Homo sapiens: one gene and its partner. The main gene of each other region encodes a partner of the protein of the gene in region 2 in a complex. Links are inferred from orthologs where the notes say so. Each region holds a gene or a part of one and is shown on either strand. Other genes may lie near its edges.

Region 1 (3,930 bases), on a different chromosome or scaffold from region 2:
CATAGAGGCAGAGACTGAGATAGGGACTCAGAGCCACAGAAAATGCAGACACCAGCACCTCAGCCCTAAGCAGCTAGAAGATGGGGCAGCAGGCTGGAACTCGCTCACTGGGTCCTTCTCCCCTCCTGGGCCCTAGCTGGGCCTGTGGCCTGGCTGTACCCAGCATGGCTCATGTCCAGTTTATGGTTCCCCTTCTTTCCCTCTAGAGCATGGGAATGGGCAGGGAGCCAGAGGCTGTGGTTCCATCTTCCCTCCTTACCCAGTAGGGCCTATGGATGTTAGGGAGGGAGGCTCCACACAAGGTCCAAAGTCAAACTGTTGGATGGGGTCCAGGGGATTTCTGCTCTGGGAACAAAGCGTCCTGAGGATGCTGGGCAAGAGGACAAGGATGGGGGTGGAAGGCGAGAGGACAAGGCCCTGACTCCCATGGATGATGCGGGAGGCAAGGCCCTCGGCCCATCCAGGAGGGGCTGGGTTGCTTAGGGGTCGCGTGCCAAATGACAGTGTGGGAATTTCCTTGTCCTGGCACTGCCTCTAGACTTTTCCTCTCTGGCCCAAGTTGTTCCTCTTCAGCTAGCTCTGCCCTACTGTCTTGAACATCATATGTGATGCCCCTCTGATGAAATGAAAGATTCTTCTTTGCTAGTGTTAGCAGGAATCACCCTTTGTTCACTGGACCAAGGCCAATGAGATGACCTCGCCTGAGGAGGGGTCCAAAGACATTCAAGTGCCCGCTTCGCTCCTTGTCAGAGCCCTCTGCTTGAGCAGTAACCCCTCTTCCCAGCCCTGCCCAGACCTCTCCCGGGCCCCGTTATCTTCCACTGAGGCCCTGATTCCCCAGGAGGAGGTAGGAGGTGAGGCCAGTTGGGCCAGAGGCCTGGGCTGGTGCCAGAGAAAGCTGCCTGGTCTCTCTGTGGTGTCTGGAAAGGCCAGGGAAGGGAGGAAAGGAAGTCCTGCCTGCAGCACCGCCAGCAGCCCACAGGAATGCCACACCTCCCAATCCATGTCCTCAACGACCCTCCCCGCATTCCCACTCTGCTGACTAGCCTTTCCTTCTCTCCCACAGCTGGACGCACAGAACAGTCTCTCCGTGGGAGGAGACATTATGGGGCGTCCACCACCACCCCTCCCTGGCCATCCTCCTGGAATGTGGTCTGCCCTCCACCAGAGCTCCTGCCTGCCAGGACTGGACCAGAGCAGCCAGGCTGGGGCCCCTCTGTCTCAACCCGCAGACCCTTGACTGAATGAGAGAGGCCAGAGGATGCTCCCCATGCTGCCACTATTTATTGTGAGCCCTGGAGGCTCCCATGTGCTTGAGGAAGGCTGGTGAGCCCGGCTCAGGACCCTCTTCCCTCAGGGGCTGCACCCTCCTCTCACTCCCTTCCATGCCGGAACCCAGGCCAGGGACCCACCGGCCTGTGGTTTGTGGGAAAGCAGGGTGGACGCTGAGGAGTGAAAGAACCCTGCACCCAGAGGGCCTGCCTGGTGCCAAGGTATCCCAGCCTGGACAGGCATGGACCTGTCTCCAGAGAGAGGAGCCTGAAGTTCGTGGGGCGGGACAGCGTCGGCCTGATTTCCCGTAAAGGTGTGCAGCCTGAGAGACGGGAAGAGGAGGCCTCTGGACCTGCTGGTCTGCACTGACAGCCTGAAGGGTCTACACCCTCGGCTCACCTAAGTGCCCTGTGCTGGTTGCCAGGCGCAGAGGGGAGGCCAGCCCTGCCCTCAGGACCTGCCTGACCTGCCAGTGATGCCAAGAGGGGGATCAAGCACTGGCCTCTGCCCCTCCTCCTTCCAGCACCTGCCAGAGCTTCTCCAGGAGGCCAAGCAGAGGCTCCCCTCATGAAGGAAGCCATTGCACTGTGAACACTGTACCTGCCTGCTGAACAGCCTGCCCCCGTCCATCCATGAGCCAGCATCCGTCCGTCCTCCACTCTCCAGCCTCTCCCCAGCCTCCTGCACTGAGCTGGCCTCACCAGTCGACTGAGGGAGCCCCTCAGCCCTGACCTTCTCCTGACCTGGCCTTTGACTCCCCGGAGTGGAGTGGGGTGGGAGAACCTCCTGGGCCGCCAGCCAGAGCCGGTCTTTAGGCTGTGTTGTTCGCCCAGGTTTCTGCATCTTGCACTTTGACATTCCCAAGAGGGAAGGGACTAGTGGGAGAGAGCAAGGGAGGGGAGGGCACAGACAGAGAGGCTACAGGGCGAGCTCTGACTGAAGATGGGCCTTTGAAATATAGGTATGCACCTGAGGTTGGGGGAGGGTCTGCACTCCCAAACCCCAGCGCAGTGTCCTTTCCCTGCTGCCGACAGGAACCTGGGGCTGAACAGGTTATCCCTGTCAGGAGCCCTGGACTGGGCTGCATCTCAGCCCCACCTGCATGGTATCCAGCTCCCATCCACTTCTCACCCTTCTTTCCTCCTGACCTTGGTCAGCAGTGATGACCTCCAACTCTCACCCACCCCCTCTACCATCACCTCTAACCAGGCAAGCCAGGGTGGGAGAGCAATCAGGAGAGCCAGGCCTCAGCTTCCAATGCCTGGAGGGCCTCCACTTTGTGGCCAGCCTGTGGTGGTGGCTCTGAGGCCTAGGCAACGAGCGACAGGGCTGCCAGTTGCCCCTGGGTTCCTTTGTGCTGCTGTGTGCCTCCTCTCCTGCCGCCCTTTGTCCTCCGCTAAGAGACCCTGCCCTACCTGGCCGCTGGGCCCCGTGACTTTCCCTTCCTGCCCAGGAAAGTGAGGGTCGGCTGGCCCCACCTTCCCTGTCCTGATGCCGACAGCTTAGGGAAGGGCAGTGAACTTGCATATGGGGCTTAGCCTTCTAGTCACAGCCTCTATATTTGATGCTAGAAAACACATATTTTTAAATGGAAGAAAAATAAAAAGGCATTCCCCCTTCATCCCCCTACCTTAAACATATAATATTTTAAAGGTCAAAAAAGCAATCCAACCCACTGCAGAAGCTCTTTTTGAGCACTTGGTGGCATCAGAGCAGGAGGAGCCCCAGAGCCACCTCTGGTGTCCCCCCAGGCTACCTGCTCAGGAACCCCTTCTGTTCTCTGAGAAGTCAAGAGAGGACATTGGCTCACGCACTGTGAGATTTTGTTTTTATACTTGGAAGTGGTGAATTATTTTATATAAAGTCATTTAAATATCTATTTAAAAGATAGGAAGCTGCTTATATATTTAATAATAAAAGAAGTGCACAAGCTGCCATGTGAGTCGTGGGAAAGTTGCTTTTGGGGTGTGGGTGGCAAACATCAGGGTGGGTGGGCAGCAGTTGCCGGATGAACCCCAGCTCAGAGAACCTTTTTCCACAAAACACAGGGGAGGAAGGTTCTCTCCAAGTTTCAGTCTTGGTACCAAAACCTCCTGTATTATTGCTGTCCCAAACACATTCATCTGCATATCTGCTCGTATTGGGCAGAAAGTGGCCAAACATCAGGCCTGGTCACTGGCCCCTGCTCCTGCCCAGCCTAGCCCAGCCTGGGAAAATGGCTGGTTGGGCTCTGTCCAAGGGCCCCGGCGGCCTGCAAGGATAAGGCTCCTTGACTGCTGAGCCCTGCTGACCAGGGCAGAGGTTGCTGGCTAGGTCCTTGCAGACTCTGAGGTGAATGAATTCTGTTTCCAGGCTGGGAAGTGAGTGTGGTTAGCAGGGGAGAGCCAGGAGTCCGTGTAAGGGCCCTCGTTCGGGCTCGACCTTCCTACTGGAGCTGGAGAGGAGACTGAGGGTGTGGCTTTCCATGGGGAGAGGGGTGTTAGGCAGGGCCAGAGGAGTTGAAGGCCCAAACATACACCCTGGGCAAAGCTATGACAAGAGGGGCCTCCCCATCCCTGAGGGAGTGGTAGACAGCTTTGGATTAGTGGTTCCCAACACTGGCTTCCGGGAGAATCACCTGGATTGTTTAAAAAAAATACTGATCCCCGAGCCCCACCC
Region 2 (8,154 bases):
TTACCTGTTCTGGATGTTTCATATAGATGGAGTCGTATGACATTTTGCTACTGGCTTCATTGACTTAACACAGTGTTTTCAAGGTTCATCCACAGTGTAGCAGGTACCAGTATTTCATTCCCTTTATAGCTGAATAATATTCAATTGTATGGACACACCACATTTTGTTTAGCTGTCAACTGTTTCCACCTTTTGGCTACTGTAAATTGTGCTGCGTTGAATATTTGCGTGCATGTATTTATTTGGGTCCCTGTTTTCCATTCTTTTGGTTTTACCTAGAAGTGATATTTCTGGATCATATGACAATTCTATGTTTAACTTTTTGAGGAATTGTCAAACTGATTACCATAGCAGCTGCACCATTTTTCATTTTCACCAACATTGTACAAAGGTTCCAATTTCTCCACATCCTCACCAACACTTGTTATCCGATTTTTTTTATTATGATGATCCTAGTAGATATGAAGTGGTATCTCAAGGTGGTTCTGATTTGCACTTCCCTAATGACTAATGATATTGAGTATTTTTTCATGTGCTCTGGAGAAATATCTATTCAATGTTTTGCCTGTTTTTTAAAAAAATTATTTTAGACTCGGGAGTAGATGTGCATGTTTATTACATGGGTACATTGCATAATGGTGAATTTGGCTTCCAGTGTACCCAGTACCCAAATACTGAACACTGTACCCAATAGGTAATTTTTCACTTCCTTTTTGCCCTTTCCCCTTTCCTTCTATCCTTCCACTTTTGGAGTCTATTCTTTCCATCTTTATATCCGTGTGGACCCTTTGTTTGGCTTCCACTTATAAGTGAGGACATGCAATATTTGAATTTGCCTATTTTTAAATTTAATTGTTTTTTTGTTGTTGTAGGCAACACTACAACTTTCATTCTTTTTTAAAATTTATTTTCCCATAAATATTTATTAATTGTGAGGGACAATAGAGTGGCTTTAGCTACATATTGCGTGATTCTACATACATTCTTTAGCTACACACTGTATGATTCCATTTATATGACATTATCCTGTAAAGCACAAAGACATTGTGGAAAAGGCAAAACTGCAGGGATGGAGAACAGATCCGTGGTTGTTTGGTGTAAGGGGTTTGGGGAGGGCTTTACTATAAAGGAGCAGCATGAGAAACATTTTCTAGAGTGATGGAGCTGTTCTATATCTTGACTACAGTGGTGGTTACATTGTTATATATATTTGTCAAAACTCATAGAACTATGCACCAAGAGTGATTTTTGCTGAGGAAACACTACAACTTTCATTCTGTATATATTCTGGATATATTTATTTATTGTGGATATAAATATTCATTCTGTGTGTTTTTATTCTCTTGACAGTGTCCTTTGATGCACAAAAATGTTTAATTTTTATTATGTCCAATTTTTCTTTGGTTGCTTGTGCTTTTAGAAACATATCTGAGAAATCATTTCCAATTCCAAGGTCATGAATATTACCTTTATGGTTTCTTTTAAGGTTTTAATAATTTTAGCTTTTATATTTAGGTCTTTAATTCATTTTGAGTTAATTTTTATATGTGATGTAAAATAAGGATTCAACTTCATTCTTCTGCATGTGACTATCTAGTTCTTTTAGCACCTATGTTGAAAAAACTGGTCATTCTCCATTGGATGGTCCTGCCACCCTTGTTGAATATCAGTTGTCCATGAATGTGAGAGTTTACTTCCTGACTCTCAATTTTATTCTATTGATCCATATAGTTATTCTTATGCTGATACCACACTATTTTGATTTCTGTAGTTTTATAGTAGGTTTTGAAATTGAAAAGTGTGACTCCTCCAAGATTGTTTTGCATATTCAATGTCCCTCGAGATTCCATATGAATTTGAGAATCAGCTTTTCCATTTCTGCAGAAAAAGGCTGTTGGGATTTTGATAGGGATTATATTGACCCTATAAATCAGTCTCACTTTGAGAGTACCGCTGTCTTATTAAATCCTCCAACTTATGAAAACAAGGTGGTTTTTCATTTATTAAGGTCTTCTAAATTTCTTTCAACAGTGTTTTGTAGTTTTCATTGTAAAGTCATGCATCTCCTTAGTTTATTCCAAAATATTTTATTTTTGATACTATTGCAAATTAAATTGTTTTCTTAATTTCCTTATTGGAGTATTATCAGTACTATAGAGTTACGTATGTTGATCTTGTATCCTGCAGGTTTGCTGAATTTGTATATTAACTCTAATAGTTGCTTTTTGTAGATCTTTTAGGATTTATCTATATATAGGATCATGTCATCTGTGAACAGAGATAGTTTTACTTCTTCTTTTTTAATTTGGATGCCTTCTGTTTCTTTTTCTTCCTGATTGCTCTGGCTAGGACTTCCAGTACTATGTTGAACAGAAGTGGCGAGAACAGGCATCTTTGTCTTGTTCCTGATGTAAAGGGACCAGCTCTCAGTCTTTTACCATTGAATTAGTTGTGCTTTTTCACATGTGCCCTTAATCACGTTGAGGCTGTTCCCTTTTATTGCTAGTTTGTTGGGTGGGTTTTGTTTTGTTTTGTTTTTAATGAAAGCATGTTGGGTTTTACAGTTACATCAAGTGACATGATCATATGAGGATTTTTTTCATTCTATTAATGTGATGTATTACCCTGATTTTCATGTGTTAAACCACTGTTGTATTTCTTGGACAAATCCCACTTCATCATGGTATATAATCATTTTAATATGCTGTTAGATTTGGTTTGCTGGTGGCTGGGTGCAGTGGCTCACGCCTGTAATCCCAACACTTTGGGAGGCCAAGATGGGCAGACTGCTTGAGGTCAGGAGTTCAAGACTAGCCTGGCCAACATGGTGAAACCCTGTCTCTACTAAAAATACAAAAATTAGCTGGGCATGGTGGCGCATGCCTGTAATCCCAGCTACTCGGGAGTTTGAGGCACGAGAATAGCTTGAACGCGGGAGGCAGAGGTTGCAGTGAGCCGAGATTGCTCCACTGCACTCCAGCCTGAGTGACAGAGTGAGACCCTGTCTCAAAAAAGAAAGAAAGAAAGAAAAAAAAAAAAAGATTTGGTTTGCTAGTACATTTTTGAAAATTTTTGCTTTCTATATTCATGCATTTGTATTGGTCTGTAGTTATCTTTTCTGGCAATGTCTTGGTCTAGCTTTGGTACCAGAAAAATGCTGGCTTCATAGAATGAGTTGAAAAGGATTGGTATTAATTCTTCTTTAAATGTTTGGGAGAATTCACCAGTGAAGCCATCTGGTCCTGGGCTTTGCTTTGTCGGGAGGTTTTTGATTACTGATTAAATTTCTTTTCTTGTTATAGGTTTATTTGGATTTTCTTTTTCTTCTTGAGTCAGCTTTGATTGACATTCATGATTGCTAAAGGTTCAAAACACTTTTCTGAAAAAGAAAGTACATATATACACTCATAAATATACATACAAACACACACATACACACCACACACACACCTGAGTACACGGGAATGATCATTTTCCTGGATCAATGTTATATCAGGATTTTTCAATTTCAAGAAGGAACTTTAGGCTGGGTATAGTGGCTCATACCTATAATCCCAGTACTTTGGGAAGCCAAGGTATGCGAATCACTTGAGCTCAGGGGTTTGAGACCAGCCTGGACAACATGGTGAAACCCCATGTCTACCAAAAATACAGAAATTTGCTAGGAATGGTGGCACATGCCCCTGTAGTCCCAACTACTCAGGAGGATGAGGTAGGAGGATGGCTTGAGTCCGGGAGGTGGAGGTTGCAGTGAGCCGAGATCACACTACTGCACTCCAGCCTGGGTGACAGAACCAAACCCTGTCTCAGAAAAAAAAAAAGAAAAAAAGAAGAAGAAATGACCATGTTCTTTAGAGATAAGAAGTAAAATACTAAGCGAATCAACTAAAAGAGGTAAAAGCAATTGCCTCCAGGAAAAGAGGGAGCAAAGGAATGCTATATATTTTAAGAATTATGCAGAACAATTAGATTCTTTGTAAAAATAAATAAACAATGTAAGTAACGCACAAAAGATAGTTTTATAACCAGACTGCTGGGATCCAAATCCTATCTCCACCATTTGGTAGCTGTTTGACTATGGACAAGCTTAAGGCATTTGATCTCTCTGAGCTTTAGTTTTCCCATCTGTGAAATGAGAATGACAATAGTACTTACCTACATAAAGTTTTGCAGTACTAAAGGAGACAGTGAATGTAAAAGGTTTGGCTAGTAAATGTCCTGTAAAAGGAAGCTTATTGCCAATATTATCAGGCTCTCCCAGACCAACCTGTATACAGGAAGAAAACAAACTCCGTTTCTCCTATAGTCTCACAACACAAAATACTTCTGACCCCAGATGTAGAGGATGGGGCATATTTCCCCATACACCAAGCAATCAACCAATTGTTCAGATTCTGCAGCAGACACGAATCTGGTGCCCTCCGATTCAATTTGAACACTATATTTACCTAGAGATAACGTCAGATCTCACAGCTTGAAGGCTTGAGCCAGGAGTTTGAGGCTGCAGTGAGCTATGATCGAGCCACAGAGCTCCAGCCTGGGCAACAGAGTGAAACTGCGTCTCTAAAATAATAATAATAAATTTTTAAAAGATATGCATTACTTTGGAGATTCCAAGGATTTTAGGAGTTGTAAGCCAGGACATCAGGGTAAAGAAAAAATATATATGTCACAATATCATGCAACCTAACTTCTCTTTGGGATCTGCCAGAGCCACCTGATCACTCTGAAGACCCTCATTTGTGCTACTGACTAACGGTCTGGCTGCTCTTGGACATGTCTCTTCTCCCAAGACCCCTTGAAGATGGCTTTAGAAGGGCCCCAAACTTAGCTAGCTCCCCCCAAGCTCAGGCTGGCCCTGCCCCAGACTGCGACCCCTCCCTCTTGGGTTCAAGGCTTTGTTTTCTTCTTAAAGACCCAAGATTTCCAAACTCTGTGGTTGCCTTGCCTAGCTAAAAGGGGAAGAAGAGGATCAGCCCAAGGAGGAGGAAGAGGAAAACAAGACAAACAGCCAGTGCAGAGGAGAGGAACGTGTGTCCAGTGTCCCGATCCCTGCGGAGCTAGTAGCTGAGAGCTCTGTGCCCTGGGCACCTTGCAGCCCTGCACCTGCCTGCCACTTCCCCACCGAGGCCATGGGCCCAGGAGTTCTGCTGCTCCTGCTGGTGGCCACAGCTTGGCATGGTAAGAGCAGAACGGGGGGTGGGGGACTTTGTTGGGGTGTGATGGAGAAGACCCCTGTGAAAGGATTCAGTCCTTGCCCCTCACTGGGTGTCCTCAGGCTGTTTTAGTCTCCCCAACACTGGACTGCAGGCTTGTGGGTATCTGCTTTGGAGAGGTAGTGGGGTGAAAAGAGATGGGTGTGGTGGAACTGGTCCACCTGGTGCTGTGGATCTGTCCCAGCTCTGCCAGCGACTCACTGTGTGTCCTGAGCAAGCCTCTGATACTCTTGAGGCTTCAGTGTCCACTTCTATTCAATTGCAGGTGTTGGGGGCAGGGGGACAGTGATAGACTAGACCAGAGCAGTGCTTTTCATACTTTCCTGTGCATACAAGTTACCTGAGGATTTTGTTACAATGCAGATTCAGACTCAGTCGGTCTCAGGTGCGACCTGAGATTCTGTATATCCAACACACTCCTGGGAGATGTGAGATGCCGGCACTGCTGGTCCAGACCTACACTGAGTTGGGAGGACCTGGAGAGCTCCTGATGGCTCTGGCAGCTCTGCCAGCCTGTGATTCGATGATTCTATGCAAGATCTGATTTGGAAGGGCCTGATAGGGGTGGTGGTTCTTCCTTGGGTGGCTTGTGTAAGGGGTCAGAGGGGAGAGACAAGAGGTTGGCCTCTCTGGCCCAGGGCTCAGGAGAGGGGAATTCGGGGTGAAATAGGTATAGGGCTAGAGGAGGGATTGGGAAGAGGCCAGTGAGGGTCTCCTGGACCAGAGCCCTCCCAGACACAGGCTGCCAAGTCTCAGGAGGTCCCCAGGCTGTAGCAGTTCTGCAGAATTTCCATCTGGGAGGGAACATGACTAGAGGTGAGGGGCTGCTGTGCTTGGCTTGTTGGCCCAACAAACACATTTCTATTGCCTGCTTATTCAAAGGGACCTTGGGGGAGGATGGGGATTGAAGGGGAGAAAGGACAGCCTCATACTGGCCTCTTCACAGAAGGACCCTAAGGCCGTGGCGCTTCTGGTCCCTGATGAGGAGGAGATGGCCCACTGACCATCCTTCTCTGGCCCAGGCAATCACACTGAGCTTGAGTATTTGGGTTTTTTTTTTTTTTTTCCTGAGACAGAGTCTCTCTCTGTCACCAGGCTGGAGTACAGTGGCACAATCTCGGCTCACTGCAACCTCCACCTCCCGGGTTCAAGTGTTTCTCCTGTCTCAGCCTCCCAAGCTGGGATTACAGGCATACACCATCATGACTGGCTAATTTTTGTATTTTTAGTAGAGATGGGATTTCACCATGTTGGCCAAGCTGGTCTCGAACTCCTGACCTCAGGTGATCCACCTGCCTTGGCCTCCCAAAGTGTTGGGATTACTGGTGTGAGTCACGGCGCCCGGCCTGGACTTCTTATTTTGCAATGTAACTTACATGCAGTAGAAAGCACAGGTTCTTAAGTTCAATGAGGTCTGACAAATGCACACACAGTGTACCCGCCACCCCCTTCATCTCAGAGAGTCCCACAGGTTTGATTTCACTGCCTTGTCCTATCCTTACACCCACAACCTGCCTGTGGGGCAAAAACGGAAAAGTATCTGAGCCAGGTCTCAATTTAATTTTATTTTTTTTATTGAGATGGAGTCTTGTGGCCAGGCATGGTGGCTCACACCTGTAATCCCAGCACTCTGGGAGGCCGAGGCGGGTGGATCACAAGATCAGGAGTTTCAGACCAGCCTCGCCAATATGGTGAAGCCCCCTCTCTACTAAAAAATACAAAAATTAGCCGGGTGTGGTGGTGGGTTCCTGTAGTTCCAGCTACTCAGGAGGCTGAGGTGGGAGAATCACTTGAACCCGGGAGGCAGAGGTTGCAGTGAGCTGAGATCATGCCACTGCACTCCAGCCTAGGCGACAGAGCAAGACTCCATCTCCTTCCTTTCTTTCTTCCTTCCTTCCTTCCTTCCTTCCTTCCTTCCTTCCTTCCTTCCTTCCTTCCTTCCTTCCTTCCTTCTTTCTTTCTTTCTTTCTTTCTTTCTTTCTTTCTTTCTTTCTTTCTTTTTTCTATCTTTTTGAGACCGAGTCTTGCTCTGTTGCCCAGGCTGGAGTGCAATGGCATGGATCTCGGCTCACTGCAACCTCCGCCTCCGGGGTTCAAGCAATTCTGCCACTCCTGAGTAGCTGTGATTACTGGTGCCTGCCACCACACCCAGCTAATTTTTTTATTTTTGGTAGAGACAGGGTTTTATCATGCTGGCCATGCTGGTCTCGAACTCCTGAACTCAAGCGATCCCCCTGCCTTGGCGTCCCAAAGTGCTGGGATTACAGGCATGAGCCACTGTGCCTGGCTTCAATCAATTTAGAAGTTTATTTTGCCAAGGTTAAGGACATGCTGGCGAGAAAAAAACATGGAGTCACAAAAACATTCTGTGGTCTGTGCCATTCTGGATGAATTCGAGGGCTTTAATATTTAAAGGGGAAAGTGGGCTGGAGGGGAAAAGGGGAGGTTGTGGTAATCCACATGTTGCAAAAGAAAAGCAGCAGGTAGGGGAACAGTCAATTATCTCGGTTCAGTAAATTGGCTCTTTACATAGGGAAAGTGAACATAGAGGAGCTGCCTGTGGGATATTTTACCTTTTATCTGTCGCTATCTGCTTAGGAATAAAAGGCAAGGCAGCTTCTTGCATGACTCAGTTTCCAGCTTGATTTTTCCTTTTGGCAGAGTGAATTAGGGTCCCAAGTTTTTATTTTCCCTTCACAGGGGCATGGTGTGTGGGAGGGGGGCCAGATGGTTTTCCAGGGTCCAGTCCCAAGAGAAAGAAGAGATGGGGAGGCTGGAAACCTAAGTTTTCAGCCCAACAGACCAATGATGAGTGGATGAGGGGCCACTGTGAGGAGACTGGGGATGGTATTGGAGGACCCTAGAGAGAGAGGGGGGCTCTCTCTTCATTACTGCGATGAGATCCTGGGCTGAAGAGGGGCTGTGTCCAGCCTTAGTG

Evidence for each region.
Region 1: the proteins of CSF1R (region 2) and CSF1 are in contact, whole or in part, in a crystal structure (PDB 3EJJ), measured with the Mus musculus proteins. The link is inferred for Homo sapiens from one-to-one orthologs. Residues at the interface, in NP_001032948.2 of Mus musculus: Arg142, Arg146, Leu149, Arg150, Lys151, Lys168, Val169, Leu170, Ser172, Asn173, Val231, Gly232, Phe233, Leu248, Ser250, Asp251, Phe252, Asp254, Asn255, Tyr257, Lys259; in NP_001107002.1 of Mus musculus: His38, His41, Met42, Gly44, Asn45, Gly46, His47, Phe87, Gln90, Asp91, Asp94, Arg98, Asp101, Glu110, Arg111, Gln113, Glu114, Leu115, Asn117.

The regions. Positions count from the first base shown.
Region 1 is NC_000001.11:109,927,786-109,931,715, forward strand, and holds the end of CSF1 (macrophage colony-stimulating factor 1 isoform a precursor), read left to right. Parts: intron 1-1,066; 3' UTR 1,067-3,207; downstream 3,208-3,930. UniProt on the Homo sapiens protein: Cytokine that plays an essential role in the regulation of survival, proliferation and differentiation of hematopoietic precursor cells, especially mononuclear phagocytes, such as macrophages and monocytes.
Region 2 is NC_000005.10:150,083,406-150,091,559, reverse strand, and holds the start of CSF1R (macrophage colony-stimulating factor 1 receptor isoform a precursor), read left to right. Parts: upstream 1-5,005; 5' UTR 5,006-5,132; coding exon 5,133-5,181; intron 5,182-8,154. UniProt on the Homo sapiens protein: Tyrosine-protein kinase that acts as a cell-surface receptor for CSF1 and IL34 and plays an essential role in the regulation of survival, proliferation and differentiation of hematopoietic precursor cells, especially mononuclear phagocytes, such as macrophages and monocytes.